Linked DNA regions of Homo sapiens: regions 1 and 2 are each linked to region 3. Evidence: fine-mapped expression QTL. A gene starts in region 3. Each other region holds a variant in brackets. All regions are shown on one strand. Distances are between the middles of the regions. Region 1 holds the start of RNF183 (ring finger protein 183). Region 2 overlaps ALAD (aminolevulinate dehydratase). Region 3 holds the start of BSPRY (B-box and SPRY domain containing).

Region 1 (10,595 bases), 44 kb after region 3:
GGCCAAGGTGGGAGGATCACTTGAGGTCAGGAATTCGAGACCAGCCTGGCCAACATGGTGAGGCCCCGTCTCTACTAAAAATACAAAAATTAGCCAGGCATGGTGGTGCATGCTTGTAATCCCAGCTACTCAGGAGGCTGAGGCAGGAGAATTGCTTGAACCTGGGAGGCAGAGGTTGCAGTGAGCTGAGATCGCACCACTGCACTCCAGCCCGGGCCACAGAGCAAGACTCTGTCTCAAAAAACAAACAAACAAAAAAAAAACAAAAAGAAAAGAAAAGAAAAGAAAATCCCAGCTTTGGATCAGGGGGTTGGTGTTACCTGGCACTGCGTATTCAGATGCTGGACTCAGTTCACCTGGATTAATTTTTTGGTAACTGGCTAACTTCATGCAATAACAATGCAGATGTTTAAAATGAGGCTGCATGGAAGCTGTCTGTGATTCACCCTACATGAAAAACACAGGTAACAAAAACCATCGTACAGCATCATCCTATTTTGGTAAAAATATCTCCATACACATGTCTGTACATTCATAGATAAAGACTTGGAAGAAATGTGGCAAAAATACTAACAGTGTTGTATCTGGGTATTGAGTTTAAAGATGAATTTATTTTCTTCTTTGTTCCTTTCTATATTGCTTGATTTCTTTTGCAGTGAGGATGTACCAGTTTTTTTAATTTTATTTTTGAAATAGAGAATACATTCACAAAGTAATAATCAAGAGTCTAAAAGATTATACAATAAAAATTCTTCTCTCGTCCCTGTCTGCCTTCCATCTGGCTCCCTCCAGAGGTAAACAGTGTGACCAGCAACTAGTGTATCCTTTTAGAGACTTTATGCACATATAAGCAAATATATGTTTGTTTTTTCCTATTATCACTTTTACAACCAAAATACAATAAAACTACCTTGATTTTGAAGAAAAGGCTGTAGAAGACTCTTTGATTATATAAAAAGATGAAAAGTGAAAAACAGAGGCTAGAAAACTACATACAGTGTGACATTTTATATGAAATTATATAAAGTATATATATTATTTTAAAATATATAAAATATATATTTAAAATGTAAAGAGAGACAAAAGCTATAATCCAAATGTGTGGGCAATTATCTCTGTGTCTAAAGTTTTAGGTGAGTTTATTTGCTGTCTTTTTTTTTTTTTTTTTGCAACAGAGCCTCGCCCTGTTGCCCAGGCTGGAGTGCAGTAGCACGATCTCGGCTCACGGCAACCTCCACCTCCCAGATTCAAGCAATTCTCCTGCCTTAGACCCCTGAGTAGCTGGGATTACAGGCACGTGCCACCACGCCTGGCTAATTTTTGTATTTTTAGTAGAGACAGGGTTTCATCATATTGGCCAGGCTGGTTTCGCACTCCCGACCCTGTTATCCACCCGCCTCAGCCTCCCAAAGTGCTGGGATTACAGGTGTGAGCCACCGCACCCAGCCTGAAAACTAAGGTTTTCCATTAAATTTGGTGCCAAAACTTACCTGATCTTGTGATGTTTATTCTTTTCGGTGTCAATATTCATAATAAGCTGCAAGATATCAATGTTTGAATATAGGGTACTGCCCCAGATCCCACTGGGAGAATTGGGAGAGTTGGCAAATGCATCATCTTACCTTCCTAAAATTATGAAAAATTCTGAATTCTGAAACACACTTGGAACCAAATGTTTTGAATAAGGGATTGTGACTTGGAAAGCAAATTCAGATGCTGCACACAGCAGAGGCCGGGGGTGCCCATCCCCAGGCTGGGATTCACGTTGCCCTGCCTAAGGTGTCAGGTCCTTGGGAGCCTTTATGAATCTGAAGCTGAATATAATCAGAAGGCATCAAGGAGTATATACTGGAGGTATGTCTCCTAAATCAGTACTCTTCACTTGTAATGAATGTGTCTCTGAATCTCCCAGGGATCTCGTAAAAATGCAAATTCTGCCTCCGTAGGTCTGGAGTGGGTCTGAGATTTTGCATTTCTGTTTTTCTTTCTTTCTTTCTTTCTTTCTTTCTTTCTTTCTTTTTTTTTTTTTTTTTTTTTTTTTGAGACGTAGTCTCGCTCTGTTGCCCAGGCTGGAGTGCAATGGCACAATTTTGGCTCACTGCAATCTCCACCTCCCAGGTTCAAGCGATTCTCCTGCTTCAGCCTCCCGAGTAGCTGGGATTACAGGTGTCCATTACCACACCCAGCTGATTTTTGTATTTTTAGTACAGATGGGGTTTCACCATGTTGCCCAGGCTAGTCTCGAACTCCTGACCCCAAGGGATCTGCCTGCCTCAGCTTCCCAAAGAGCCAGGATTACAGGTGTTAGCCACCATGCCCGGCCAGATTTTGCATTTCTAACAATCTCTAAGTGATGCCTATGCTGCCGGAACTGTCCTAAATGCTAGACAAGCCTCAGGCAAGGCTCTGAGTGATGATGACATGGTGGCCCCCTAGGGAGAGTTGCCCTCTGCCCTTGACTGGGGCCTGCTAAACACTGACCATGCCGGATTCTAAACCTGCTGCACTCATCACCTTTTCTCCATCCTTCTGCCCTCTGCCACCTCTTCCTTCCCAGATGAGTTAAAACCACCCCACGCCTCTGCTCCAGACATTGGCTGGGCTCCACCGAGTCTCATGACTCTTCACTCACCCGGGTCTAAGGTACTGCTTAGGTGAGGTGCTTTTCCAGATGGCTGATCTTGCCCCCACAAGCATGAACTTTATAAATTAGTTTAACTCTCAAGTTCCTGAGATGCCTCACTATCTCTCCCGGGTATCTCCCTGGAAAAATTTTTCACTGTTGGCAAAGCACTCCTTAGCCTGACCACCCACAGACATTATGATAATGCATAGACTCACTAGACAATTAGTGACCTGGAAAAAAGCCATGACTTTTTAAATTTTATTTTATTTTTCTGAGACAGAGTTTCGCTCTTGTCGCCCAGGCTGGAGTGCAATGGCGCGATCTCGGCCCACTGCAACCTCCGCCTCCTAGGTTCAAGTGATTCTCCTGCCTCAGCCTGCAGAGTAGCTGGGATTACAGGCACCCACCACCATGCCTGGCTAATTTCTGTATTTTTAGTAGAGACGGGGTTTCACCATGTTGGCCAGGCTGGCCTCGAACTCCTGACCTCAAGTGATCTGCCTGCCTCGGCCTCCCAAAGTGCTGGGATTACAGGCCATGCCTGGCTATGACTTATTTTATTTTTATTTCAATGCTTACAATGTCATGACTGACTTCTTACCTGCCCTACCTGCTTATCTTTTTAAGTTCTGGATACCCTGGTTGCAGAAAACTCAGACTTAACTTACTTTCTAAGTGAACTTTCTTACTACAAAAGTAATACATATTTGAGAACTTGGAAAATGTAAGCAAGAAGAAAGCGAAAACATGAGTGGCCATCACCCAGAGATAAAATTGTGACATTTTGCCTCATGGTCTTGCAGTCTTTATACATAAATTATGCTTTACAAAATCTGGCTTATGCTACATTCTCTCTTTCTTTCCTTTTCTTTTCTTTTCCTTCCCCTCCCTCCCTCCCTCCCTTCCTTCCTTCCTCCTTCCCTCCCTTCCTTTCTTCCTCCCTCCCTCCCTTCCTTCCTTCTTCTTTCCTTCCTTCCTTCTCCCTCTCTTTTCTTCTTTTCTTTCTTTTTTTCTTTTCTATCTTTCACAGGGTCTTTGCTCTGTTGCCCAGGCTAGAGTGCAGTGGTGCAATCTGGGCTCACTGCAGCCTTGACTTTCTGGGCTCAAGTGATCCTCCCACTTCAGCCTTCTGAGTATCTGAGACAACAGGCATGTGCCACCACGCCCAGCTAATTTTTTATTTTTTTATTTTTTGTAGCAATGGGGTCGCTAGTCTTGAACTCCTGGGCTCAAGCAATCCTCCAACCTCGGCCTCCCAAAGTGCTGGGATTATAGGCATGTGCCCAGCCAACATGCACCGTTTTTTTGTTTTGTTTTGTTTTGGTTTTGGTTTGTTTGTTTGTGTTTTTTTTGAGATGGATTCTCTCTCTGTTGCCTGGGCTGGAATGCAGTGGTGCAATCTCGGCTCACTGCAACCTCCGCCTCCCAGGTTCAAGCGATTCTCCTGCCTCCTTAGCCTCCCAAGTAGCTGGGATTACAGGCACCTGCCACCACGCCCAGCTAAGTTTTTTTTTTTTTTGTATTTTTTAGTAGAGACGGGGTTTCAACATATTGGCCAGGCTGGTCTCAAACTCCTGACCTTGTGATCCGCCTGCCTCGGCCTCCCAAAGTGCTGGGATTACAGGCGTAAGCCACCGTATCCGGCCAACATGCACCATTTTTAAGCTGCTTTCCCCCTCCATTTACAGTATACTGTGACCATTTTTAAAAGTCAATGAAAATCTTTCTATATCATTTTAAATGATTATGTAGTTTTTCACCTAATTGATGGGGTTTTGGAGTGTTTTCAATCATTTGTGATTAAAATAAAACTGCAATGAATATCCTCACTCAACCAAAATATATCTTTTTGATGCTTCTGGGGAATTACATGATTAGGTCAAAGTAGATGAACTTCTTTATGTTTTCTTATGTTGCCAAGCCAGAAAGCGTGACTTCCAAACTCTCAAATACAAACCAGGTTCTTTGGACTAAATCAGTGTCTCGAATCCCCAGTAACCTCAGTTAACCAGTAGTGACACCGAAAAGCAGGGAATTCCAGAGCTGAGAGGAACTTTGAGGCCATCGGTGATCATATACCTCGTCTCCAGCTCAGAAAGAGGAGAATTACTTAGACATTTTCTTTAGAGATCTAAAACTTCCCAAAGTCCACAGTTTTATTTTCACACAATTCTAGGCTAACTTAAAATCAGCATTTTTGCATTATTCTTTCATTCAATATTTATATATTTATAATGAGGGGGTTAGATCAATAGGGGATTGGTGAAGTGATTTATGGTACAGCCATTCAATGAAATCTGATACAACCATTAAAAAACCGAAGAAGGTCTTCTTTTTTTTTTTTTGCTCTGTCGCCCAGGCTGGAGTGCAGTGGTACAATCTCAGCTCACTGCAACCTCTGCCTCCCAGGTTCAAGCGATTCTCCTGCCTCAGCCTCCTGAGTAGCTGGGACTACAGGTGTGCACCATGACGCCGGCTAATTTTTGTATTTTTAGTAGAGACGGGGTTTCACCATGTTGGCCAGGCTGGTCTTGAACTCCTGACCTCAAGTGATCCACCCGCCTTGGCCTCCCAAAGTGCTGGGATTACAGGTGTGAGTCACAGCGCTGGGCCAAAAACCGAAGAAGGTCTTTATGTACTAATACAGAATGATATCTCAAATACATCATCAAATGAAAAAAGAAAAATGCAGAACAGTGTACATAATATGCACATTTGTGTAAAAAGGAGGTAAAGGAATACATAGATGTTTTGCCATGGACATGCTGTTTGTGTATGTATAAAACATCTTTGGAAAGATACACAACAAACTGATAGTATAATACTTTGATTTCCAGGGAAACTAGGTGGCTGCGAAGAGACAGTTTTCACTGTGAAATCAAACC[A/G]TTCACATGCTCAACCATGTAAATATATTACCTATTTAAAAATCAAATGTGGGCACGGTGGCTCAAGTGTAATCTTAGCACTTTTGGCAAGTGGATTGCTGGAGCCCAGGAGTTTGAGACCAGCCTAGGCAACCTGGAGAAACCCCATCTCTACAAGAAATACAAAAATTAGCCAGCCACGGTGGCATGCACCTGTAGTCCTAGGTACTCAGGAGGCGGAGGTGGGAAGACTGCTTGACCCCAGGAGGTTGAGGCTGCAGTGAGCTGTGATCGTGCCACCGCACCCCAGCCTGGATGATAGAGTGAGACTCTGTCTCAAAATAAATCAATACATAAAAATTAATGTAAAAAAACACAAAATGCGGGGACTAGGGCATTTGATTACATCACCAAGCAGATACATTTATTTACTTGTTTATTTCTCAAGTATGGCTGAAAATGTCAGTAAAGAAATAAGGGGCCAGGCGCGGTGGCTCATGCCTGTAATCTCAGCACTTTGGGAGGTCGAGGCAGGTGGATCACCTGAGGTCAGGAGTTTGAGACCAGCCTGGCCAACAAGGCGAAATCCTGTCTCTACTAAGAATGTAAAAATTAGCCGGGCATGGTAGCGCGCACCTGTAGTCCCAGTTACTCGGGAGGCCGTGGCAGGAGAATTGCTGGAACCAGGGAGGTGGGGGTTACAGTGAGCCAGTATCGCCCCACTGCACTCTAGCCTGGGCGACAGAGCAAAACTACGTCTTAAAAAAAAAAAAAAAAAAGAAAGAAAAAAAAAAAGAAAGAAAGAGAGAGAGAAAGAAAAGAGGACCATAGGTACAAAAAGAATTTGAGCGGGAACAAAAGATGGGCCACGTGAACAGACCGGTTATAACAATAATAGTTCTGGTTAACATTTAGCGAGTTACTGTCTGCCAGGCCCTGTGTTATTACGCGATCTCGACACGTATTACCTCATTTAATCTACAGATCAAGTAGGTAGGTTATTATGGCCATTTTCAGGTGAGGAAACTGAGGCTGGCAGAAGTTAATTAATTTGCTCAAGTCTCCATCGGTAGTTAAACGGAGTTTGGATTCTCAGTGAGGGCTGAACTCTGACCTAGAAGTGTGCCTTGCTTGAGAACCCTGGCTCTTCAGGCAGACGCTCAACCGTCTCCCGACTATTTTTCTGCTGTATTAGTGGCCGCTTTTGTCAGTATTTTGCAAGAGCTATCTGTATTTTGGTTACAGGGACTCAGCATAGGGAAGGATCCATCTCGGCAGAAGCCAGGAGTCGAGGCAGGTCAGCGCACAGAGGACAGTGGAATCCGAGGGGATGGCAGGAGATCAATCGGACCCAGAACAGAGGCCTGCAAGGATGAGCGCACTTGATCCCCTCAGAGAAAAAGCCAGAGTGACTCACAGGAGAAAGACAAAGCAACCAAAGCTTCCAGGGTGTACAGGAGGTCCAAAGTCACCAGAAGGAAGAAGAAAACCTGAAACAGCGAGAGCTGGCCAAACGCTGCTAAGACCTATGCAAATAAGACCCACCCACGCTACCTGGAAATCGGGCCTGGGAAGTCAGAAAACAAAGCACATGCGTGCAGGGCTGCACGAACGGAGGCGGAGGAGGCGGCTCCGAGGGAGCAGGTAAGGAGACAGAGAGGGTCGCGGAGGGACGGGTCACAGGGCTCCAGAGTCCAGAGAGGCAGCAGCCGTGCAGCGCGCGACAGGTGAACTCTGGCCTGGGAGGGCAGGCTACTGGGTTCATCTTTCAAACTCAGCCACTCTTTAGCTGGGAAGACTTCGGCAAGTTGCCTCACCCTTCTGAGCCTTGGCTTCCCCATCTAGAAAATGGGTCTAAAAATAATCATGCTAACTCTGTATTGAGCGCCTTCCGTATTCTACTGGGCACCGTATAGACTATTCCTTCCCCAGAGCAACCTTGTAGGAGTGGGATGATTAGCCTTTTTTACAGAGGAAAATGAAGTTCAGAGAGGTTAAGCCATTTGTCCAAGACAAATTGTTCCAAATCTGGTTCCAAAGCCGGCACCTTTCTACTCCCCATTCAGCCTCTCTCACAGGGTGGTTTTAGAGTATCAAATGGCTTTCTGCAAACAACAACAAAAAATCCCAAAAGGCTAGTAACCTATCTAGATGGATCACCACACTTAGATCTTAGCAAGGGCCAGGGCCCTTTGTAAACTGTGAAGTGCTATGGAAATGCCAGTTCTTGGTTGAAAACAATGGAGTGATGCTGGGGACAATTGATATTTGGCGATGACTTGTTCATAGACCAAGGAGATGACTTTGGGGCGGTGTTTAGGATTTACTGTAGCTGAGATGTCCTGGCTTGGGGTGGAGGTGATACATGGCCAGAATCTCTCCCCAGCTGATCCTGAAACAGCAGTGGATCCCTGGGAGAGCAGCACAGATAAAGATCCAGGCAATAATGATGCTTCCTCCTCTTGGACAGCCTTTTACAGTTCTGGCCATGGAACTTCAGAGAAGGTAGGTCTGATTTGGGGGGAAACAGGAGATCTTGACGTGTAGTAATACAAGCTTACTGGATGGAGTAAAGTTAGAATTTTCAGGTAAGAGAATTAAAAAAAAAAAAAAAACTTATAATCTTGCCCCCAGAGATAACCACTGCTAATATCTGGTTGTTTATCTCTCCAGACATTTTTTCCATTGCACACACACTTTTGGAAATTGGATTATATGGTAATATGGTTTTGTTGCTGGTTCTTTTTCGCTTAATGACATTATATCCTAGGTATATATCCATATTAATAGTTTTACCACATCATATTAAAGGCTGCATAATATCTCTTCCTATGGATGGAGCAGAATCTACTTAATCAATGTCCTATTACTGGATGATGACGTAGTTCTCCATACGTCACCGTTAAACCAGCGCCTGGATGGGCATCTCTTTACTCACATCTTTGCAGAAGTCCTTGATGGTTTCCGTGGAATCGATTCCCAGTGGGGGAAATGATGAGTCAAGGTTACATACAGTTTACGGCCTCTGGTAAGTATTAAAGATCTGCTTCTAACACACTCTGGGATTCAGGGGCTTCTCAAAGCTTGATGCAGAGGACTTTGTCACGGCTTTGAAATCAACCTTGACCCTTCCTTTCTCTCAAATCCATTTGCATTAATAATTTCAACTGCCTCATATATCCATAACAATGTTTTGATCAACAGTGAATTACATATGTGATGGTGGCCACCTAAGATTATAATACCATATATTTACCTTGCCTTTTCTAAGTTTATGTTGAAAGACACACGCAATTATCATTGTGTTACAATTGCCTACAGTGTTCAGAACATAATAAGCTGTATGGGTTTGTAGCCTAGGAGCAACAGGCTAGACCGTATAGCCTAGGCATGTAGCAGGCTCTACCATCTAGGTTTGTGTAAATACTCTCTGTGCTGTTCATACAACGATGTGTTTCTGAGAACATAGTCCCATTTTTAGGTCATGCATTGCTTTGTGGTCTTTACTGGGTGCTGGGCTCTAACTAAAAGCTTTACTAGTTTTGGCTTCCTTTGCACAAGGAGAAATAGAGGCACAGAGAGGTCAAGCAATTCAACTGGAATCACAGCCCTAAATAGCCATGGATCTGGCATCATGAACCTTGACAGAAACTACAACTGGATCCCTAGAACTCCACTGCTTCTTGGGAAGTGGCTTTGATTCTGTCCCCAAAGATATCACTTATCCCATCCCCTTTTATCTCCTCTGCCACTGCCTAACCTGCACCACCATCACACGCCTGAGCCACACTGCTGCAGCCCGAACGGGTGTTCCCTTCCCGATCTTATCCCTCTCAGCCTGTCCTCTGCTCTGCAGCTAGAATGGTGTTTTAAAAATGGAAATAGGATCAGGTACCTTACCCTACCGCTCACCCCTGGAATAAAATCCAGATGAGCTCCTGAGTTCACAGGTCCCGAGTACTATACCCTCCCACCTTGCCTACTCCGGTCACCACACCTTGATCACCCTGGGCTCCTTTCACTTTCTCAAATTGGAAGAGCTTTTCTCACCTCGGGGCCACACATGCTGTTCCCTGGGCCTGCAACGCTCTTCCTCCACTGTGCGTGGCTGGATTCCTATATACTTTGGTCTCAGCTCTTCTGTCATCTCTTTGCAGAAACCTTCTCTGGTGGTCTCATTGGGAGCAGCCACCAAGCACCCGAAGCCCATTTTCCTTTTTGCCCTTTATTAACAACCATTAAAATTGTGTATTTATTTATTGCCCATTATTCATTAAATGTCTTTTTGCCTCACTACACTCTAAATGTCATGAGGTCAAAGACAATGTCTATTTTGTTCACCATAATACCTTGCACAGCACCTGGGCTAGAGTAAGCACTCAATAATGTCCGAGTGGATGAATGGACTGCAGAATAAAGCACTGGTGCAGAGCCCTGCTAAACTACCCTAGTTTCGCTTAGGGCTCCATCTCCCTCTGCATATCTTCATTTCCTCCTTCCCTGTTTGGAGCAGTGCCAGAGGTCTAGAAGAAAACCAGGAAGCCACAGGTCCGAGAGTATAAGCAGGTTTTGCTTCAGACATCGGCTCAGTCGGGGTAGATGATGTCATATCAGGGGCTCTAGGGAGACTCCCTTCCCCCAGATCCCCTCTTCCACAGTTCCTGGATTTCTACCATGAGTCTTCTGGCCGTGAAGGATTCCTGATCACATGCAAACACTTATTATCTAGCTAGTAACACGCACTGAGTAGGGGGACGGCATGGATGCAGCCTTCTGTCTTTACGAAAACCATGAGTCTGAAGACATGGGTCCCATGTCACCATTAACTAGCTGGGTGACTTTGGGTGAGTCACTTCTTGTCTCTCATCTGCAAAGTGAGTAGTTCAGATGGAGAATTGGTTTTTAAACTTTTTCTTTTCCCCAGCAGATCAACTCTTCAAATTATTCGAATGACCCATATGAGAAACAGAGAAAAGCCAAGTATTTCTGGTTGAAACGGAGAAGCTGGGCTGGAGTGCGCCTCCCTCCAACTCCCCGCTTTAACTCCCTAAGGTTGGTGGGATGGCCAGCTCTAAGATCTCAGAAGGCTGACCAGCTGTGTGCTA
Region 2 (10,595 bases), 34 kb before region 3:
TTTTGTTAGAATTGCACACCAGCATGGGAAGGAACTTGCCTCTTACCTATTTCCTTCACTGTGCATTTTATTCTTTGGTAAACTGAGGCCCCAAAAGAGGAAATGACTTGCCCAAGAAATAGAGTTTCCCAAAGCTGGGCTCCGTCTCATGTGGTGTGCCCACAGGCTGTGCTTCTTCATGGTAGCCTTCTTCCCCGCCTGGCCTTCCCATCGCAGAAGGTGTGCTCAGAGCTGATCAGCGTCCCCCCAGCAACTTTCTGCATCTCTCCCAACACAGGTGCTGACATCATCATCACCTACTACACACCGCAGCTGCTGCAGTGGCTGAAGGAGGAATGATGGAGACAGTGCCAGGCCCAAGAACTAGAACTTTAAAACGTTCCCGGGGCCTCAGACAAGTGAAAACCAAAGTAAATGCTGCTTTTAGAACTGTGCCCTCATGCCCTCTTCCTGCTCACATGCTAGCGGGGCCCAGCAGCCCTGGGTGGTTTTGCCAGCATGCTAACTCTTGTAACTCGCAGCTGCATCCTATGAGCTCTCCCAAGCTTCCCCGCCCCTCCCCTGGGTCAGCCGTGAGGCCCACCTTTGCCACCCTCAGCTCTTTCCTCTGGTGTGGCTTCAGCTTGAAAGCAACCTGGAGTCGGGGGCACAGCCTTTGGGGCCTGGCTGGGAGAGGGTCTTGGAGCATTAGGGGAAGAAGAGAGCAGTGGGATCTTGGGGCCTGAGAAGCCTTGGAACGCTTCTGGCAGCAGAGCTGGGTGTGGGAATGAGGCCTAGATCGATATCCCTGGGTTAGAGTTGAAATTTGCCGCAATTCCACTGGAAGGCATTTCCCACGAGGCCAGAGGTTGCCAGGCTGCCTGAGGTCTCCTATTCTACTCTGAACCATAAACCCAGAGAAGAATTACTCATTAACCAGCATAAATACTGCCTGAGGATCAAAACTCAGAGGCAAAGAGGGAGTTCCTGACTGCTAGAGGTGCCACCACCACAAACACTTTTTATTCAGGAGATACTTTTTGAGAATCTCTGCTCTGTTCCTAGGTTCAGTGCTGGGTCCTGGGAATACAGCAGGACAGACCTCAGCTTATCTCTTCATAGAAATTATACAAAGAGAATTGGGGAGACAGCTAAGAAGAAAACAAAGAAATAAAGCAGTTACAAATTGTGATAAGTGCTTTGAAGGAAAGAAGGGGTCTGAGACAACAACAGGGAAGGGGCCTCTCTTGAAACAGTAGTTGGGAAGGAGGCAGACATGCACCAGTGATGTGGTGACAGGTGCTCTGAAGGAGGTCACCAGGACCTGACCTCTTTGAAGGATCAGAAAATACTTCCCTGAAGGACTGACATTTGAGCCTAGACCTGAAGGGTGAGCCATCAAGCTAAGACAATTGGGGAAGAGCATTCCAGGGAGAGGGAGGAGTTGTGCAAAGGCCCTGGGGCTCCTTCTAGCTGGAGGAATGCAAGGCTAGCTTGTCTGGAGCACTGAGAGGATGGCCTGAACTGAGTGGAGAGAGACAGACCAGGACCAAACCATGCAGAGGTCAAGGGCCACATTCACCTTTTCAGAGTGACTCAATCAAATTTGTAGTTTGTAAAAGTATTTTAACAGCTCTGCGGCAAAGTGCAAATGAAAAGTCTTGATGGCATGGACTGGAGCGGGGACAGTGGGGATGGAGAAAGGGGAATGGATTGTGGATGTGTTTAGAAGGTAGATTCGATGTGAAGGATGAATCTGGCTTGACCTTCTGGGTGGCTGATGGGCCATTTACTGAGATGGGGCAGCCTGGAAGAGGAACAGAAGCAGGGTCGGGGTGGAGGGAGAATACTAAACTTAGCTTGAGACATTTTGCAATAAGGAAGCTATATCTAGAGTGCTTATGTGACTCACCTAAGGCCACTCAACAAGTTTGTGGCAGAACTGGATTAGAACTGCACAGAAAACAGCCAAGCTGGGATTTGAACCCATGTAGTCCAACTCCAAGGCCTCTGCCCCTAACCACTGTGCCATACCACCTCCCAATAATCAACAGCAAAATTATAGGTCTAACAATGTTTTATAGACACCCCTCCATTTATGTGATGGGTTTGCATCCTGATAAACCCATCATAAGTTGAAAATATGATCATAAGTTGAAAATATGATCATAAGTCAAAAATGTATTTAATATACCTAACCTACCAAACATCATAGCTTAGCCTAGCCTGCCTTAAACATGCTCAGAACACTTACATTAGCCTACAGTGGGCAAAACTATCCAACACAAAATCTATATTGTAATAAAGTTGTAAAGAATTTTGAATAAAAATTCAATATTTGAAGTACAGTTTCTACTGAATGTCTTGTTTCATACTGTTGTAAAGTCAAAAATTGTGAATTGAATGATCACAGTTCGGGGACCATCTGCAATTAGCCCCAGTTATACGGGGAGACCAAGGAGACCAGGCACCTACTTGGTTGCAAGTGATGGAAATCCAGTTCAATAGCAAAGAAGGACATGATTGGTTTTCATAACTGGATTGAGATAAGGACAGGTGTGGTTGGGCCCAGGGTCAAACCCCATGGAGGTCTCTGTCCCTTTCTAACTCTCGTCTGTGTTTGCCCCAGCTTTATACTCAGGTGGGTTTTTGCCACTTGCCAGCAACATGATCCTCAATAATTCTAGGCTTAAATAGTCGTTAAGATTTGTAATCCCAGAGAAAGAGCCTTCCTGTCCCATCACTCACATAGCAAATCTCTGGAGGTCTCTGATTGGGCCTGTTCAGGCCACATGGTCCACTCTTGGCTCAGTCACTGTAAACAATGGGATGGGAGATGGCGCCACAATTGACCAGGTAGGCCTCATTACACAGAACGCTGTCTTGGACTGAGCTTTTGCACCAGTGGCCTCCTTGGCTTGGAATGCTTTTCCCCTAAATCTATATGGCTGTCTCTCTTGTTAAGATCTCAGCTCAAAGCATCCCTTCCTCTGAGAAACCTGACCCAACACCCAATCTAAAGTCACTCTTGGAGCTGGGCGTGGTGGCTCACACCTGTAATCCCAGCACTTTGGGAGACCAAGGCAGGCGGATCACTTGAGGTCAGGAGTTCAAGACCAGCCTGGCCAACGTGGCAAAACCCCATCTAGACTAAAACTACAAAAAATTAGCCGGGCATGGTGGCAGGCGCCTGTAGTCCCACCTGCTTGGGAGGCTGAGGCAGAGGAATCACTAGAACACAGGACGCAGAGGTTGCAGTGAGCCGAGATCATGCCACTGCACCCCATCCTGGGCAACAGAGAGTCAGACTCTGTCTCAAAAAAAAAAAAAAAAAAAAGTCATTCTCCAGTCACTCTGTATTAATCAGGATTCAGGTTCAGTGGATATAACAAAAGCCAAAATAATGATAGCTTGAGATGAAAATTTACTTCTAAGCAATCCAGGGCTGATATGTCAGCAATATGTTGTGAGGGGTCTCAGCTCTTGCCTTGTTCTGTCATCATCAACACATCTTGGCCTCCATCTCATGAACAAAGATGGCTGGTGCTGGGCACAGTGGCTCACACCTGTAATCCCAACACTTTGGGAGGCTGAGATGGGTGGATCACTCAAGTCCAGGAGTTTGAGACTAGCTTAGGCAACATGAGGAAACCACGTCTGTACAAAAAATACAGAATTATCTGGGTGTGGTCGTGCATGCCTGTAGTCCCAGTTACTCAGGAGGCTGAGGCAGGAGCGAGCCCAGGAGGTCAAGGATGCAGTGAGTGGTGATTGCGCCCCTGCACTCTAGCATGGGAAACAGCGTGAGACCCTATCTCAAAACCAAAACAAAACAAAAAAATGGCTGGGCCAGTTCCCATCATCAGGTCCTCTTTCCAGCCAGCAGGAAGAGAAGAGCAAATGGAGGGCATGACCCTTCTTTATAAAGTCATGACCCAAAAGTTGCACACATCATTTCTGTCTACACACCCTTGTCTCAAATTAGTCACATGGTCATGCCCAGTTGTAAGGGAGGCTGGAAATAGTCTAGTGGGCCAGCCATATGCTCAACTAAAACTCGGGAGTTCAGTTACTAAGGAAGATGGAGAGAATGGATAGTAAGGCAAATGGCCATTTTTACCTAATGGAGGTTCTTGGGATCACAGAAACAGTGGTCAGAATATTAAAGAAAAAAGATCCTTAGAGACTATCTAGTTAAACACTCTGATTTTATAGATGGGGAGACAGACCCAGAGAGGTGACCTGTCCAAAATTAGACAGCAATCTAGTCAGTGGCAGACCAAGGCTGGAATTCAGGTCTCTTAACTCCAAGCCCAGTGCTCAAAACTCGGGAAGGGGCTGGGCATGGTGGCTCACACCTGTAATCCCAGCACTTTAGGAGGCCGAGGTGGCAGGATTGCTTGAAACCAGGAGTTCAAGACCAGCCTGGGCAACAAAGCACGACCCCATTGCTACAAAAAAAATGTTTTTCAATTAAAAATAAAACTAGTGAAGGGATTCGTTTTAGAGGGACTTTAGCTTTATATGTATTATTTCTATTCATGTATTATATGTAACAAGGATATATTCATGTGTGGCTATGTAAATAAAAAATGAAAACTTAACCAATACATATATGAAAAGGTGTTATCTTCATTAGTGGAGAAAATTCAAGTTAAAACCGCAATGAGATACCACAATACATCCACAAAAATGCCTAATACTGGCTGGGTGCGGTGGCTCATGCCTGTAATCCCAGCACGTTGGGAGGCCGAGGTGGGCGGATCACGAGGTCAGGAGTTTGAGACCAGCCTGGCCAACATGGTGAAACCCCGTCTCTACTAAAAACACACACACACAAAAATAGTCAGGTGTGGTGGTGTGCGCTTGTAATCCCAGCTACTCGGGAGGTTGAGGCAGGAGAATTGCTTGAACCCAGAAGGCGGAGGTTGTAGTTAGCTGAGATCGTGCCACTGCGTTCCAGCCTGGGCAACAGAGGGAGACTCGAAAAAGAAAATGCCTAATACTAAAAGGACAATGGGACAATGTCAAGTGTTGAGAATGCAGAACAACTGGAACTCTCAGATATGACTGGTACACCCTTTCAAAATGCCTGGCTCCACAAGAACAAAAAAAAAAGAAAGAAAGAAAGAAAGAAAGAAAACAAAATGTCTAGCTCCAGCCTGGGCAACATAGTGAGACCATGTCTATACTAAAAAATAAAAACAAAAATAAAATTAGCGGGGCGTGGTGACACATGTCTGTGGTTCCCGCTACTTGGGAGGCTGAGGCAGGAGGATTGCCTGAGTCCAGGAGGTGGATGCTGCAGTGAGCCATGTTTGGCCTGCACTCCGGCCTGGGCTACAGAGGGAGATCCTGTCTGCAAAAAAAAAAAAAAAAGAAAAAGAAATGTCTGGCCCTATTTACCAAAGCTGAACATATGCATAC[C/T]TTATGACCCTGTGATTCCACACCTAGGTATTACCCAACAGTATTTACCCAACATTACCTATGTTCATAAGACACATGTTCAACAGCATTCATAGCAGCATTTTATAATATATGTAATAAGGCCGGGCATGGTGGCTCATGCCTGTAATCTCAGCACTTTGGGAGGCTGAGGTGGGTGGATCACCTGAGCTTAGGAGTTCAAGACCAGCCTGGCCAACATGATGAAATCCCATCTCTACTAAAATACACAAATTATCCGGGCGTGGTGGCAGGCACCTGTGATCCCAGCTACTTGAGAGGCTGAGGCAGGAGAATTGCTTGAACCTGGGAGGTGGGAGGTTGCAGTGAGCCAAGATGGCGCCACTGCACTCCAACCTAGGCAACAGAGCGAGACTCTGTCTCCAAAAAAAAGAAAAAAGAAGTGTAATAAACAAAATTGGAGATAACCCAAATGTTCATCAACAGTAAAATGTGGTCTATTTATATAATAGAATATTAAAGGTGTGAGAATGGATTAACTACAACTACACATAGCAACACAGATGTATCAAACACAATTTTGAGCAAAAGAAGCAAGGCATAAAAAATACATGCTATATTATTCTGTTTATATACAGTTCAAAAACAAATAAAGTTTAACTATGCAGTTTGAAGTCAAGATAGTTACCCTTTTGGGTAGTAAGTAACTGGAAGTGGACAGGCTGTGGAGGGTTCTGGAAATTGTTCTTTTTCTTGGTCTGGGTGCTGGTTGCATGGGTATGTTCACTTTGGGAAAATTCACATTTTGCATATTGGGATACTGAGGCTCAGAGAGAAAAACAATTGAATGGAGAGCTCACAGACAGACAGATGGCAGAGCTGGGATCAGAACCTAAGGGGTTAGGTTTTCGGTGACCCTGAAAAGTAGACAGTATCAGACATTCTTGGATTCTGTGAAATGCAGTTGAACCTCTGGTCTCCCAGTTGCCCTTCCCACCCCCACTTCTGCTTCATGCTTATAACACAAAACCAGTTTTGCAAGTGAGTCGGGCTCTCTCTTGCAGGTCCAAAGTCTGTGACTCTGCACTTTGTGTTTCTTCCCAGGCCTGAACCCAGTGAACAGACCAACTTGGAACATAGGAGAAAGTTTTGTTTTTTTGTTTTTAAGAGTTGAAAGGAAGAAAATTAGGCCAGGCACAGTGGCTCATGCCTATAATCCCGGCACTTTGGGAGGCCAAGGTGGGTGGATCAGTTGAGGTCAGGAGTTCTAGACCAGTCTGGCTACACGGCGAAACCTCGTCTCTACTAAAAATACAAAAAATTACCCGGGCACAGTGGCGCACACCTGTAATCCCAGCTACTCAGGAGGCTGAGGCAGGAGAATTGCTTGAACCTGGAAGGCAGAGGTTGCAGTGACCCCAGATCGCATCACTGCACTCCAGCCTGGGTGACAGAGTAAGACTCTGTCTCACAAAAAAAAAAAAAAAAAAAAAGGGCCAGGCTCGGTGGCTCATGCCTGTAATCCCAGCACTTCGGGAGGCTGAGGCAGGTGGATCACCTGAGGTCAGGAGTTCAAGACCAGCCTGGCCAACATGATGAAATCCTGTCTCTACTAAAATACACAAATTATCTGGGCGTGGTGGCAGGCACCTGTAATCCCAGCTACTCGGGAGGCTGAGGCAGAAGAATCGCTGGAACCCAGGAGGTGGAGGTTGCAGTGAGCTGAGATGGCACCATTGCACTCCAGCCTGGGCAACAAGAGTGAAACTCCGTCTCAAAAATGGAAGAAAGAGAGAAAGAGACAGAGAGAGAGGGAGGGAGAGAGAGAGGGAGGGAGGGAGGGAGGAAGGAAGGGAGGAAGGGAGGGAGGGAAGAAGAAAGGAAAGAAAGAAAGGGAAGGGAAGGGAGGAGGGAGGGAGAAAGGAAGGAAGGAGAGAGAGAGAGAAAGAGAGAGAGAGAAGAGGGAGGGAGGGAGAGAAAGAAAGGAGAGAGAGAAAAGAGGGAGGGAGACAGAGAGAAAGAATGAAAAAAAAAGAAAGAAAGGAGGGAAGGAGGAAGAGAAAGAAAGAAAGAGAGGAAAGAAAGAAAATTAGATACATGTTTGTGTGCTGCTAGAAAACTGTGTCATAGCATAACCAAAACTGTCACCTCAGCAATCCCTGGGGAGTGAGATGGGGTGGGGAAGCCCTTCTCTCCCTGCCCCAAGGCTACTGCCCTTGTTCAGTAAGCAGGCTGAGGCCCCACACCCTTCTTTCCGGTTCCTCACCTGGAGTACTTTCCTTGATCTTAACCTGACAACCTCCTTCTCACCATTCAGATCTTTGTTCCTTCCTTGACCACCTCATCCAAAGAGATACCCTGTCACTGTTCATAAAATGATTGTTTTTACCGCTTCCACTTCTCTCTCTGAAATCACTTTGTTTATTTATCTACTCAATGGTTGTCTGCCCCTCCCATGCCCCATGCAGGCAGGAACCACCTTGTTTCCCACTGAATCCTCAGAGAAGGACAGGGGACACAGAGCCCACAGATGTTAGGTGGTCAATGAATGAGGTTGGGTGTTGGTGGGGGGCTGGCTTTTTATTTTGTACACGTTTGTATTTTGCATTATTATTATTATTTTTTGAGACAGAGTCTTGCTCTGTCACCCAGGCTGGAGTGCAATGCTGTGATGTCAGCTCACTACAACCTCTGCCTCCCAGGTTCAAACAATTCTTGTGCCTCAGCCTCCCGAGTAGCTGGGATTACAGGCACCTGCCACCATGCCCCACTAATTTTTGTATTTTTAGTAGAGATGGGGTTTCACCATGTTGGTCAGGCTGGTCTCAAACTCCTGACCTCAAGTAATCCACTGGTCTCGGCCTCCTAAAGTGCTGCAATTACAGACGTGAGCCACCACACCCAGCCTGTTATTATTTTTTAACAAGATGGGGTCTCACTTTGTTTCCTAGGCTGGTCTCATACCCCTGAGCTCAAGGGATCCTTCCACCTTAGCCTTCCAAAGTGCTAGGATTTCAGGCATGAGCCACTATGCCTAACCCTGAATATGTCTGTATTTTTTTTAATAGGAGAAAAAGCATATACATTTATTTGATCATAGTTTTTTTGTGACATGGGAGCCTTCAGAATGAAGAGCCACAGATACAGAGGAAACTGTCCATTTTTATGCTTAGGTTCAACGAAGTGTACATGGCCGTGTATGTAGGGAAAAGAGAGATCAGACTGTTATTGTGTCCATGTAGAAAAGGGAGACATAAGAAACTCCATTTTGACCTGTACCCTGAACAATTGCTTTGCCCTGAGATGCTGTTAATCTGTAACTTTGCCCCAACCTTGAGCTCACAGAAACATGTGTTGTATGGAATCAAGGTTTAAGGGATCTAGGGCTGTGCAGGATGTGCCTTGTTAACAAAATGTTTACAGGCAGTATGCTTGGTAAAAGTCATCGCCATTCTCCATTCTCGATAAACCAGGGGCACAATACACTGCGGAAAGCCGCAGGGACCTCTGCCCTGGAAAGCCTGGTATTGTCCAAGGTTTCTCCCCATGTGACAGCCTGAGATATGGCCTCGTGGGATGGGAAAGACCTGACCGTCCCCCAGCCCGACACCCGCGAGGGGTCTGTGCTGAGGAGGATTAGTAAAAGAGGAAGGCCTCTTGAAGTTGAGATAAGAGGAAGGCCTCTGTCTCCTGCCTGCCCCTGAAACTGAACGTCTCGGTATAAAACCCGATTATACATTTGTTCAATTCTGAGACAGGAGAAAAACCGCGCCGTGGCGGGAGGCGAGACATGTTGGCAGCAATGCTGCTTTGTTATTCTTTTCTCCACTGAGATGTTTGGGTGGAGAGAAGCATAAATCTGGCCTGTGTGCACATCCAGGCATAGTACCTTCCCTTGAACTTATTTGTGACTCAGATTCCTTTGCTCACATGTTTTCTTGCTGACCTTCTCCTCACTATCAGCCCGCTCTCCTATCGCATTCTTCTTGCTGAGATAGTGAAAATAGTAATCAATAAATACTGAGGGAACTCAGAGACCAGTGCCAGAGCAGGTCCTCCGTATGCTGAGCGCCGGTCTCCTGGGCCCACTGTTCTTTCTCCATACTTTGTCTCGGTGTCTTATTTCTTTTCTCAGTCTCTCGTCCCACCTGATGAGAAATACCCACAGGTGTGGAGGGGCAGGCCACCCCTTCACATGTAGAAACAGGATTGCACAAAACGCTAATAGACTGAATAGAGAAACCCACCAAGACCCATCTGTGTAGATTCTTCTTGGCCTCTCTGTGCAGTGTTCCTTCCTCCAGGGTATGCGGCAAGACCCTCTCAAAGGGGCCTGGGTGGTGGGGGCTGTCTTATGACCTGTCTTGCCTAAGGTCATAGTGCAAGGTGATGAGACTAAAGAGGAACAGAGCACAGGCACAGAAGTATCTCAAAGCTTCCCCTCCGGTACCTCCCCAGCCTCTTTGGCCCAAACCCCCTGGCTAGCAACATTCCTATAGTTCCTCAGTGTCTCTTTGGTTCGGAAAAAAAACTTTCTTGCCTGGAGGCCTTTGCATCAGGGGGTCCCTTAACCATCACTCAGATCCTTCCCCTCTGCATGGCCAACTCTCATATGTTTGTATTTTTTAGTTTTTTGAGACTAACATGCATTACATGCATACCTTATTTATTTATTATTTTTTTATTTTTTTATTTTTTTGAGATGGAGTTTTGCTCTTGTTACCCAGGCTGGAATACAGTAGCCTGATCTTGGCTCACTGCAACCTCCACCTCCCCGGTTCAAGCGATTCTCCTTCCTCAGCCTCCCAAGTAGCTGGGAATACAGGCATGAACCACCTCGCCTAATTTTGTATTTTTAGTAGAGACGGGGTTTCACCGTGTTGGCCAGGCTAGTCTTGAACTCCTGACCTCAGGTGATCCACCCACCTCAGCCTCCCAAAGTGCTGGCATTACAGGCGTGAGCCACCGCGCCCAGCCAACATACATTACTTTTGCAAACAAAGATAAAACTCTTTTTTTATTCTTCAAAAGAATAAAAAAGCTCCCTGGTGGTCTAGTGGTTAGGATTCCAGGCTCTTACCACAGGGATCTTTTTTTTTTTTTTTTTTTTTGGGGACACAGTCTCGCTCTTTGCCCAGGCAAATATTGTGCAGTGGCAGAATCTTGGCTCACTGTAAGCTCCGCCTCCCGGGTTCATGCCATTCTCCTGC
Region 3 (10,595 bases):
AGAATATTCAATGTAAAAGTCCTAGGTTATTTTATAATTCTGCAGCTGGGCAGAAAATGACCAGATGGTAGAAGAATACGACCCTTCTTGATCCCCTATGCCAAGATACCCAAGAAAGTCATTTGCTAGCAGAGTCTTTGCACCAAGTATGGTACAGGAACAAGCCCACCCTGCCCAGATGGTAAAATTGAGTCTCTGAGGGATGAGAAGCTTTGCTAGTAGCACAATGAGTCTGTGAGGTTGGTAAGGGACCCTAGACTTGCCCAAGTCCCTAAGTCTAAGGCCTTATCCTGGGAGGGGGCTGAGTAGAGAGGAAAGAAGAGGAATTACCACTGCTCTTTGATTCTTCCCCGGCAGGACGTCCGCCACATACTTGGTGATGGCAGCACTCTGTAACTGCAGCCTCTCACACTGGTCCACAATCTTGTTCTGCAACACAAACAACGCTTGTGGCATCTTGGTCCATGTACCTGAGCCATTCACTCCATCCCAGTGATTTTCTCCTGTTACCACATGTCAGCCACCCACTCCCATGGTCATAGCCCAGATCTCATCATTATCAAAAACTGTACCACCTCCTAAATCTCCATTTCAAGGATCCACACTCTCCCCACCATGCCCTATCCTTCTCACTCCCTAATTCTAGGATACCTATTCCAGCAACAGCTCAGTTGAGGCCACCAACACACTAGTGGGACTACCTTTCACTGTCCATCATCCCCTTCTGTGACCTCACCTCCGTCTTCATCCCAGAACCCCAGCCTATCATTATAATAACTTTAAAACAAATTTTTGCTCTATGAATATTCTCAGGCTATATTATTTAGAAACATTTAAGATTAGAATCATTATATGTTGCTGGTGAACTGCACATTCTCTAAGTGACTTTATCTTTAGTACTATGTTTGCCTTAAAGTCCATTTTGTCTTGTGTTTATTTTTATTTTTTTTTATTTATTTATTTTTTGAGGCAGAGTCTCACTCGGTTGCCCAGGCTGGAGTGCAGTGGTGCGATCTCGGCTCACTGCAACTTCCACCTCCCAGGTTCAAGCGATTCTCCTGCTTCAGCCTCCCAAGTAGCTGGGATTACAGGTGTGTGTCACCACACCCAGCTAATTTTTGTATTTTTAGTAGAGACAGGGTTTCACCATGTTGGCCAGGCTGGTTTCGAACTCCAGACCTCAGGTGATCTGCCCGCCCTGACCTCTCAAAGTGCTGGGATTACAGGTGTGAGCCACCGCACCCAGGCGTTTGTTTCTTTTTAAATTTATTTATGTATTTATTTTGAGATAGAGTCTTGCTTGTCGTCCAGGCTGAGTGCAGTGGCATGATCAAGACTCACTGCAGCCTTGACCTTCCAGGCTCAAGTGATCCTCCCATGTCCTTCCTGAGTAGCTAGAACTACAGGCACGTGCCACCACACCTGGCTACTTTTTGCATTTTTTGTAGAGATGGACTTTTGCCATGTTGCATAGGTTGGTCTCCAACTCCTGGGCTCAAGCAATCCTCCCGCCTCAGCCCCCCAAAGTGCTGGGATGTTACAGGTGTGAGCCACCACGCTCAGCCCGTTATAACCACTTTCTGGCGCACACACTCTTGGTCCTCCGTCATACTCAGCTGCCTGACTGTCCATACCTTCTGTTCTGTCCAGAACTGCTCTCTGCCAAGTTATCCTCATTCATTAAGCAGCACCATCAATCATTCACCTGTTACCCAGACCAAAAACCCAGGAGTTTGTCTCCAACCCCACATCAATTCCATTAGTGAGTCCTATCAACCCCATCTCCAAAGTCTCTCTCTCTCCTCTGGTCACCTCTACTCCAGTTATTCTATCCAGGTTGCCATGATCTCTCACAGGAACCACTGTTAGAACCTCTTAACTGGGTACCCTGCACCCCCAACCCCCCAGCTAGCCAGAGCCACCTTTTGTAAGGAAATCAGACCAGGTCATGCCCCTACTCAAAACCCTCCAATGGCTTTCAGTACACTCACAATGACATCAGGCTTCTTAGCTTAGCCAACCTAGCCCCACCTGATGTGACTCAGCTTATTTCTCCAACATCACTTTCTACCTCTATCCATGCTGGCCTTCTTTCTGTTCCTTAAATGTACCAAACTTGTCCTGACTTCAGTGCCTTTGCACCTGCAGTTCCGTTTCCACCAGTCTGTGTGTGTGTGTGTGTGTGTGTCTCACTCCCCAACTGCATTCAGATGTCATCTCTTCAGAGAGGTCTTCCCTGACCATCTCCCTCCTCACCCAATCTCTTACTTTGCTTTATTTTTCTCCCTTGCACTTATAACTCTCTGACTATATATTATGTGTTTGTTTACCTTTTTGGGTATCTGTCTCCCCCACCACTGGAACAGAAGCACCATAAGTCTGACTTCTCTATGTCCTAGTACCTCAAAGAGAGTTTCTGAACATAGAAGGCCCTGAATAAATATTTGTTGAATGAACGAACACCCACTGCCTTGACCACAAGAGGTTCAGCAGTTCATGGCTCTCAAAGCTATGAGCATCATCCATGAGCTCAGGGGAGTTTTAGAAATGGGAAAGCTGGCCGGGCACGGTGGCTCACACCTGTAATCCCAACACTTTGGGAGGCTGAGGTGGGCGGATCACCTGAGATCAGGAGTTCGAGACCAGCCTGGCCAACGTGGTGAAACCCCATCTCTACCAAAAAATACAAAAATTAGCCAGGCGTAGTGGCATGCGCCTGTAGTCCCAGCTACTCGGGAGGCTGAGGTGGGAGAATCTCTTGAATCTAGGAAGCAGAGGTTGCAGTGAGCTGAAATAGCACCACTGCACTCCACACTCCAGCCTGGGTGACAGAGTGAGACTGTCTCAAAAATAAATAAATATAAGTAAATAAATTTTAAAAAAAAAGGAAAGAGAAAGAAACGGGAAAGCTGAGGCCCAAAGAGAAGTGACTTCCCCAAGAAGGTATGGGCCAGGGCCCTGCTTTTGCTCTCCGTTTCTCCAGGTGATACCTAGAGCCTATCCAAGCAGCAGTCCCTCCACTGTTCCCCCTAAGAGTTCTGCCTCAGTTCCATCTGCCAAAAGGCAACTTAGCTACCTCTTCCAGGAAGCCCTTGTAAATCTTTCCACCCAGAAGTAGAAATTAGTTACATTTCATAGGTCCAAATACAAAGTTACAGAATTGAGTTGACTAGGAGGAAGCTGTGATCACCATGCACCATGGACTAAGAGCACTGAGAAGGCTTCTGAAAAACCACAGGGCAGGAATCCAGAGGTAGGAGAGCAGTAGAACTGGTGCTGGTTTTGGTAATAATCTTGCCCTAGGGTGAGATTTATTTGCTGACTGGATGGATAGAGGAAGGAATGTGCAAAAGACAGAAATCTACTCTAATTTGGTGGAAGAGAGGGTAAGACCCACCTCCCTTCAGGCAAAGGAGATAAATATGCATACGGCCTCAGAGGGGTTCAAAGAAGGTTCCCTAGGGTAGTACCGAAACTAGCACCAGGCCTGCCACCTGCCCGAGGCTTCACTCTTTCCACCACTCAAATCCAGTCCTGATAGCTACTTTTAAGGTTTCCATGACATTCTCACCCCCATTAGCATCACTTCCTCCCTCCAACCGCCGAAGCAAAGCAGCAGTTTCCTCTTGCCTAGTCAATGACTCCCTGGGTCCCACCCCTGAACATTAGGAAGCTTGGAGGAGTTACTGCCTTGTTCCGAGCCTCCAGTGCCTCATCTGTAAAATGTAGGTAGGACCCCTTCAAAGGCGTGGTCAAGACAGAATGAGATGACAGACATTTAAGTACTTTGGAGTTTGCAAATTTTTTTGTCCATTATGCAAGTTGATTACACCGCGTTATCCAGGTTTATTTTTGTCATCATTATTGTTGATAGAGGTAACAGGTAGGACGAACCAGGAGCTTTTGGGTGTTGCTGAAAAACTGAACCCCTCCCGAGCCCAGCACCCTATATAAGATGTGTTTATTACAGGTCACTCTGGGTAGGCGAAGTCCCCAGCCAGAGCCCTCAGGCTTCACAGCAGGGGTGAACTGCAGAGTCGGGTTGGGAGAAACAAGCTGTTTAATCAAATTGCAAGGAAATCCCCAGGGGCCACAGAGAAGCCCAAGGTGACTTCGACTCTCCCAATCTCAGCAGCTCAGGAGAATGGTGATGACAAGGAGGTGGCCACCCTGGAGCCGAGCTGGAAGTGGAGGTGGCGAGAAAGCCTGGGTGAAGGGGAATCCCCTGATATTCTCCCTACCCCCACCGTTTATCCAGCTGAAGCCCTTAAACCAGCCTGAAGTACAGTCAAGGCCAATCCTGAAAGCGAAAAAGAGATCACCGCACCAGAAGCCAGAAGGGGTTAGGAGCAGGGGGAAGAGGCGAAAGGAGGAGGGGGGCTTTGAGTCCAGGGGTTAAGGGATACGGTCGCGCTGGATTTTATCAGTGTCAGTTTCCACAGGGGCGGGAGCTGGGGCACACCCTGCGCTGAGAACTGGAGCAGCTGAGCCTTTCATGCCAGCCCCAGCTTCCTCAACAGAGCAATGGAAGGGGCCTGGGGAGCCTGGATCCCCTTATCGCTAAGCATTTTACCCACTATCTTATTTATTTCTCACAACTCTAATAAATACGCGCTATTATTATTGTTGTTGTCCCCAAACTACAGATGAAGACACTGAGGCTCAGAGTTACGTGACTCACAGGGAGTAGATTCGAACTCAGGCCAGCCTGACTTCAGAGGCCACACCCTTAACCGCCTAGTCCTACAGCCAAAGCCACCGAGGAGCCTAGGCTCCGGGGCCGGGTGTCGAGTCCGCCCAGCCCCAGGCTCCCCAGTCCCTGCCGGGTCCCGCCAGGCGCGCCCGGGGTCTCCGGAGCCCTCGCCTTCCGGCGCCCACACCCGCTCACCCGCAGCTCCTCGGCGCGCTCCTCCGCCCGGCGGATGCGGTGCCCCCGGCAGCGACCGCCCAACCCCGCGCAGGCGGCGCACACGGGCCGTCGCTCGGAGCCGCAGAACCAGCTCAGAGCCTGGCCGTGTTCGGGGCAGAGTGGCCCCGGCCCGGGCCCGGACCCGGACCCCGGCCCCGGCTCCGCGCCCTCGGCGGACATGGCCGTGCGCCCGCCCCGTGCGCTCCACCTGTCGCAGGTGGCGGCGGGCGGGGCCTGGCTGACCCCGCCCCCGGCCCTCCCGGTGCGCCAGCGCGCCCCGCAGCTGCGCCTCCTCCCACCCAACCCGCGCTCCCATCCCGCCCGGGGCAGCAGGTCTCTTTAAATTCCTTGTTGAATGAAATCGCGATTGTATGCGTATTTGTTCTACAACAAACATAAAACTCCAAATATTACTGTGACCGTAGGAAACTTTATTGAGCACTTATTAAGTGCCAGGCTTTCGCTGAGAGCTTTGCAAGCGTTCTGTTATGTAATCCCGACCACTGCCCTTTTTGAGAGGCAGCTTTAGATGCCTAGCTTCAAGCAAGGCTCTGCTGAGAAACTGCCTGGTTCAAATCCCGTTTGGCTGCTCACTGGGTGGGAACTCCAGCTGTAAAATGGGGTGAGAGTACCTGCCTCCCAGACGTCTGAGGAGTAAATACGCTAAATACGTAAAACAATATCTGGAACATAGCAGCTGCAATCGCTAAGTGTCTACTAACAGTGCGAGGAAAGTACTATTAGGATCCCATTTTTATGGAAGTTAAGTGGCTTGCCAAGGGTCACAGTTACTAATTGGTAGCTATGAGATTGGAACCTAGGCAGTGTGACTTAAGGTTACTATAATTAATAATTTTTTAAATTGAACATTGAGGCCCAGTGAGAAATATCTGTATTAGGCTGATTTTCCCAAAGTATTTACATCCAAACTTTTTGAATTTGAATATTTGAGTTTTCTTTTTAAACTAGCATTGAAAAAAAGTAATGCCTTTTTATTTCGAAGAAAACAAAATATGCAAATAAGCATGTGGAAGAAAAATCCACCCACTCCCACCCCAGAAAGAAAAACTGCTAACATGTTCCTGAGCTGTTTAGGGCTTTTCCCACCCTCAGGATCTTATATATTAGTCTGAGCCCAGATTGAGCCCTCTGCTGGGGATCCAGTCTAGTCTGTCTGGGCATACAAGGAGAACGCTGCTCTCCAGCTCTAAATTCTTCTTCTTCTTTTTTTTTTTTATTTTTTTTTATTTTTTTGAGATAGGGTCTCACTGTGTCACCCTGGCTGGAGTGCAGTGGTGTAATCATAGCTCACTGCAGCCTCGACCTCCCCAGCTCAAGTGATCCTCCCACCTCAGCCTCCTGAGTAGCTGGGACTACAGGCACATGCCACCGTGCCCAGCTAAGTTTTGTATTTTTCGTAGAGACAGGGTTTTGCCATGTTGCCCAGGCTGATCTCAAACTCCTGGGCTCAAGCCATCTCCCCCCTTCAGCCTCCCAAAGTGCTGGGATTACAGGTGTGAGCCACCGCGCCCGGCCACCAACCCCAAATTCTTTCTTAGGAGTCTTGGCAGAAAGCTGGGCACTCTCTCAAAAGGGGAAGGGCCCAGGCCTTCAGGTGTCAGAGAGTACTCTGAGTGCATCAGAACTGAACACAGGCGGGAGCTAAACCGAAAGAGAAACATTACATCCCATAGCTCACAGGGGCTCTAGCACCTCTACTCTGAAGCTTCTCTAAGCAATGGCCACACAAAGGAGATAGAACCCTTTCCTTCTCAGCCACTACTGCTTTAGCACCTGAGGGGTAAGGGCAGCTAACAGCCCCAGAGCTACCCAGAGCGGTACACAGTGGTGTCATCATCCAATGGGGACACATTGTCACCCCAGATAGACAATATTACACCATATGATTAGAGAGAACACTGAGTGAAATATAGTCATTGGTTTCATCCCAGCTATGCAGCTTACAGCTATGGGATCTTGGTCAGGTTACTCACAGCTTCTGTGTCTGTTTTCTTATCTCTACAACAGAGGTGATAATAATACTATCATCTACCTTAGAGGGCTACTTCAAGAATGAAATGAGATCTTGTCTACAAAGTATTTACTTTGGGTGTCTGATATACAGTAGGGGATAATAAAAGGTTTTATTATATGTGTGAGGATCTGTAAATACAGTTGTAGCAGGTTTCAGAATGTAAATTGTGTGAGGTTCTTTGGCGACAGGGGTGCTGCTTTCCTGGCATCTAAAGAAGTTTCCAGTGCATCCCAGTGGGAGGGTGATGGCCTCATAACAGCATCTACACTCCTCTGGGGGTGGGGAGGGAAATAGGCCATGGTAATTAGAGATTGTGGTTAGAATTTTTTCCTTCTAAGGACTGGGGATGGGGAATTATTAAACCCTATGGTGAAAACAAAGAAAATAGGAGGTGCTTTTTGTGTGAAGGCTAAAAAGAAAAGAGGTTGTGTGGCCAGGAGCAGTGGCTCATGCCTGTAATCCCAGCACTTTGGAAGGCTGAGGCAGGCGGATCACTTGAGGAGTTCGAGACCAGTCTGGCCATCATGGTGAAACCCCGTCTCTACTAAAAGCACAAAAATTAGCCGGGCATGGTGGTGCACACCTGTAATCCTAGCTGCTGGGGAGGCTGAGGCATGAGAATCGCTTGAACCCAGGAGGTGGAGGTTGCAGTGAGCTGAGATCGCGCCACTGCACTCCAGCCTGGACAACAGAGCAACACTCTGTTTCAAAAAAAAAAAAAAAGAAAGAAAGAAAGAAAAGAAAAGAAAAGAAAGAAAAGAGGTTGTGGAGGGCAGGGGGAGGAACAAGGGTTAAAATCCTTAGGGAAAGGTGGGGGGGGGGGAGGGGGGCCTTCACTGGGTGTGGCCCTAGAGCAGTCATTGGCCCTACCAGGTCCAGGATCTGGAAAACAGCCCCTAAATCACCAGAATTACTTTCAGGTAGTGGCATCAGCAAATGCAAAGGGCTAAGGTAGGAGTAGATTTACTTTTATCAAGTCGGGTTCCTCTGTTTCACCACTTATGAGCCAAGTTGGACTGGAACTGGAGAATCGCCCTTTCCCTATCTGTTCATCAAGCCCTGCAGGACACATCTGGGATACTCATAAACTCCCCGGTTATAGCTCTTAAGCTTTATCAGGCTTCGGAATCGTTGGAGGACAGGGGATGGTCAGGAGGGGAAAGAGGAGGAGTTGTAAAACACGCAGACTTTCCGGTAAGATTTTCATCCATTAAGTCTGGGATGAAGCCAAGAAGCTGCATCTGTGGCAGTCACTCCTTGACTAGGATGCAAAGGAGCCCCTTGACTGTTTCTAGAAACACTGCCCTAAGGCAGTGGCAACCCTTTATTAGGTGGCATATCAAGAAATTCAAGGGGTGGAGATCAGCATCTTTTATAAAAAGAAAGAAAAGGCTGGGCACAATGGCTCACGCCTGTAATCTCAGCATTTTGGGAGGCTGAGGAAGGTGGATCACCTGAGGTCAGGAGTTCGAGACCAGCTTGGCCAACATGGTGAAACTCCGTCTCTACTAAAGATACAAAAACTAACCAGGCGTGATGGCACATGCCTGTAGTCCCAGCTACTTGGGAGGCTGAGGCAGAAGAATCACTTGAACCCGGGAGGCAGAAGTTGCAGTGAGCAGAGACTATACCACTGCACTCCAGCCTGGGTGGTGGGTGACAGAGTGAGGCTCTGTCTCCAAAAGAGAAAAAAAGAAAAGAATAAAGAACAGAAAACATGCTCTTAGTAAGGTTTTTGTTGTTTCAATTACATATATATAGGTAAACAAAATGGATGGAAGGTCGTTGTTTTGGACTGGGCTTCCACACTAGGCCCCACCATACCAAACCAAAACAAAATGGAGTTACTCATGCTAAACTGCCACTTCACCAAACCAAAACTAAGTAGTTTATCTGAACTTCCAAGAAATTGGGAGAGAAAAAGAGAAAGAGAGAGCATATTAAAATCCCCAAACAGTACAGAATTAGCTGGCATGATAAGGAAGTCCTCTCTGTTTTAACCCTAAAAGGAAAGTAACTTTGAAATGAGTAATCCTCTTTTTTTTTCCAGCTCTTTTCTACCTATAAAGCCCATGTCCTCTGTTCAGCTCATTGGAACATTCTGTTTTATAGAATTAGGTGTTGCCTGATTCTAGAAGTGCTAATAAAAGCCAATAAGATCACTCAACTACATTTGTTGTAATTTTGTCTTTGGCCTATATATACGTACATATGCACCGTGGAGAATGAATGTACTTCTTTATGAGGTCAAAAAAATTTGAAAGCTGCTTAGAGCTCTTAGGGGACCTCTGGAGGCTTCATGGGCATAGGCAGGGCTGTACTTGAACTTCAGGCACTCTGAGCTAGGGAGAGAAGAATGGACACCATTGTTACATTTTAGTCATTCAACAGATTTATTGAGCCCCTGCCAATGTGCCAGGCCTTAGACACTGGGGATACAACAGTCAAGAAGAACAAAGTCTACTTTCATGCACAAATAAAATGCAACAAATGGATATGTAATATAATGTCAGTAATGATAAGGGCTATGAAAAAGATTCAAGTATTACAAGAAAAAGAGCATGATGGAGGTGCTGGTGTAGAAAGGATGGTGTAGAAGTCCTCTCAGGTAAGTGGCACTGGAAGAAGCAAGGCATGAAAACATCTGGGGAGGAGATTTCCAGACAGAGGACTAGCAAGTGCAAGATGTCTTTCTGTACCATGAACTCTGCTCCCCAATCTTCAAAGAACCTCACACGATTTACAATGTGTGAAAAACTGCTACAAATATACTTACAGGTCCTCACACATAGGTTAAAGCATTCATTAGCTCCCACTATATGATACAAGCTGGAACATATTTATTTTACAAAATTGGGATTATGTGTACAACCTGCTCTCTAACCTGCCCTTTCACTTGCTCATTTATAACATTTGGCTTGGATCTTTTTTAAAAAACTTTAAAAAAAAAATAACTTCTGGGCCAGGTGTGGTGGCTCACACCTGTAATCCCAGCACTTTGGGAGGTCGAGGTGGGTGGATCGCAAGGTCAGGAGATCGAGACCACCCTGGCTAACACAGTGAAACTCTGTCTCTACTAAAAATACAAAAAAAAGAAAGAAATTAGCTGGGTGTGGTGGCAGATGCCTGTAGTCCCAGCTACTCGGGAGTCTGAGGCAGGAGAATGGCATCAATCCGGGAGGCAGAGCTTGCAGTGAGACGAGATTGCACCACTGCACTCCAGCCTGGGCGATAGAGCGAGACTCCGTCTCAAAAAAAAATAAAAATAAAAATAAAACAAAAAAAACTTCTGTAGAGACCTGAGTCTTTTTATGTTGCCCAGACCGGTCTCAAATTCCTGGCCTCAAGTGATCCTCCCACCTTAACCTCCCAAATTGTTGAGATTACAGGTGTGAGCCACCAGGCCTGGCCTAAACTTTTTATTTTAATGAACATTTTGGAAAGTCTTTTGGAAAGGACTATTCTTCCCTAGCCTTTACTTTCCCTCAGGCCTGCTCCTCGGTGTCAGGCCCAGCCTTTTCTGCCTGCCTGGTGGGGCCCTGGCCTGGCCCAGCCCAGCCCCCTTCTGCCTGGGCCTGTGTCCATTCCTCCTTCCTTCTCAGACACTGATCCAATATCTCTGGTGCCAGGGCTGGAAGTCATCTGACTGGG

What was found.
Region 1: its variant is fine-mapped to the expression of BSPRY in whole blood (TOPMed, PIP above 0.99). The same link has a PIP of 0.9 or more in blood mononuclear cells.
Region 2: its variant is fine-mapped to the expression of BSPRY in unexposed skin (GTEx, PIP above 0.99). The same link has a PIP of 0.9 or more in sun-exposed skin.

What each region holds. Positions count from the first base shown.
Region 1 is chr9:113,299,595-113,310,189 of GRCh38, reverse strand. It overlaps RNF183 (ring finger protein 183), which reads left to right and starts at 6,814. Exons shown (of 5, transcript NM_001371237.1): 1 at 6,814-7,134; 2 at 7,877-7,995; 3 at 8,439-8,518; 4 at 10,415-10,595. RefSeq lists a cis regulatory region at 2,523 and enhancers at 2,439-2,608, 4,374-4,543. The variant A/G (reference allele first, on the strand shown) is at 5,512.
Region 2 is chr9:113,378,044-113,388,638 of GRCh38, reverse strand. It overlaps ALAD (aminolevulinate dehydratase), which reads left to right. Exons shown (of 12, transcript NM_000031.6): 12 at 278-2,327. The coding sequence ends at 339. Among named protein-coding and RNA genes, the nearest start is that of HDHD3, 6.4 kb to the right of the region's middle. RefSeq lists an enhancer at 7,487-7,546. The variant C/T (reference allele first, on the strand shown) is at 5,407.
Region 3 is chr9:113,344,074-113,354,668 of GRCh38, reverse strand. BSPRY (B-box and SPRY domain containing) reads right to left here and starts at 5,128. Exons shown (of 6, transcript NM_017688.3): 1 at 4,889-5,128; 2 at 331-429. The coding sequence starts at 5,089. RefSeq lists silencers at 2,104-2,153, 4,781-5,060, 5,091-5,160.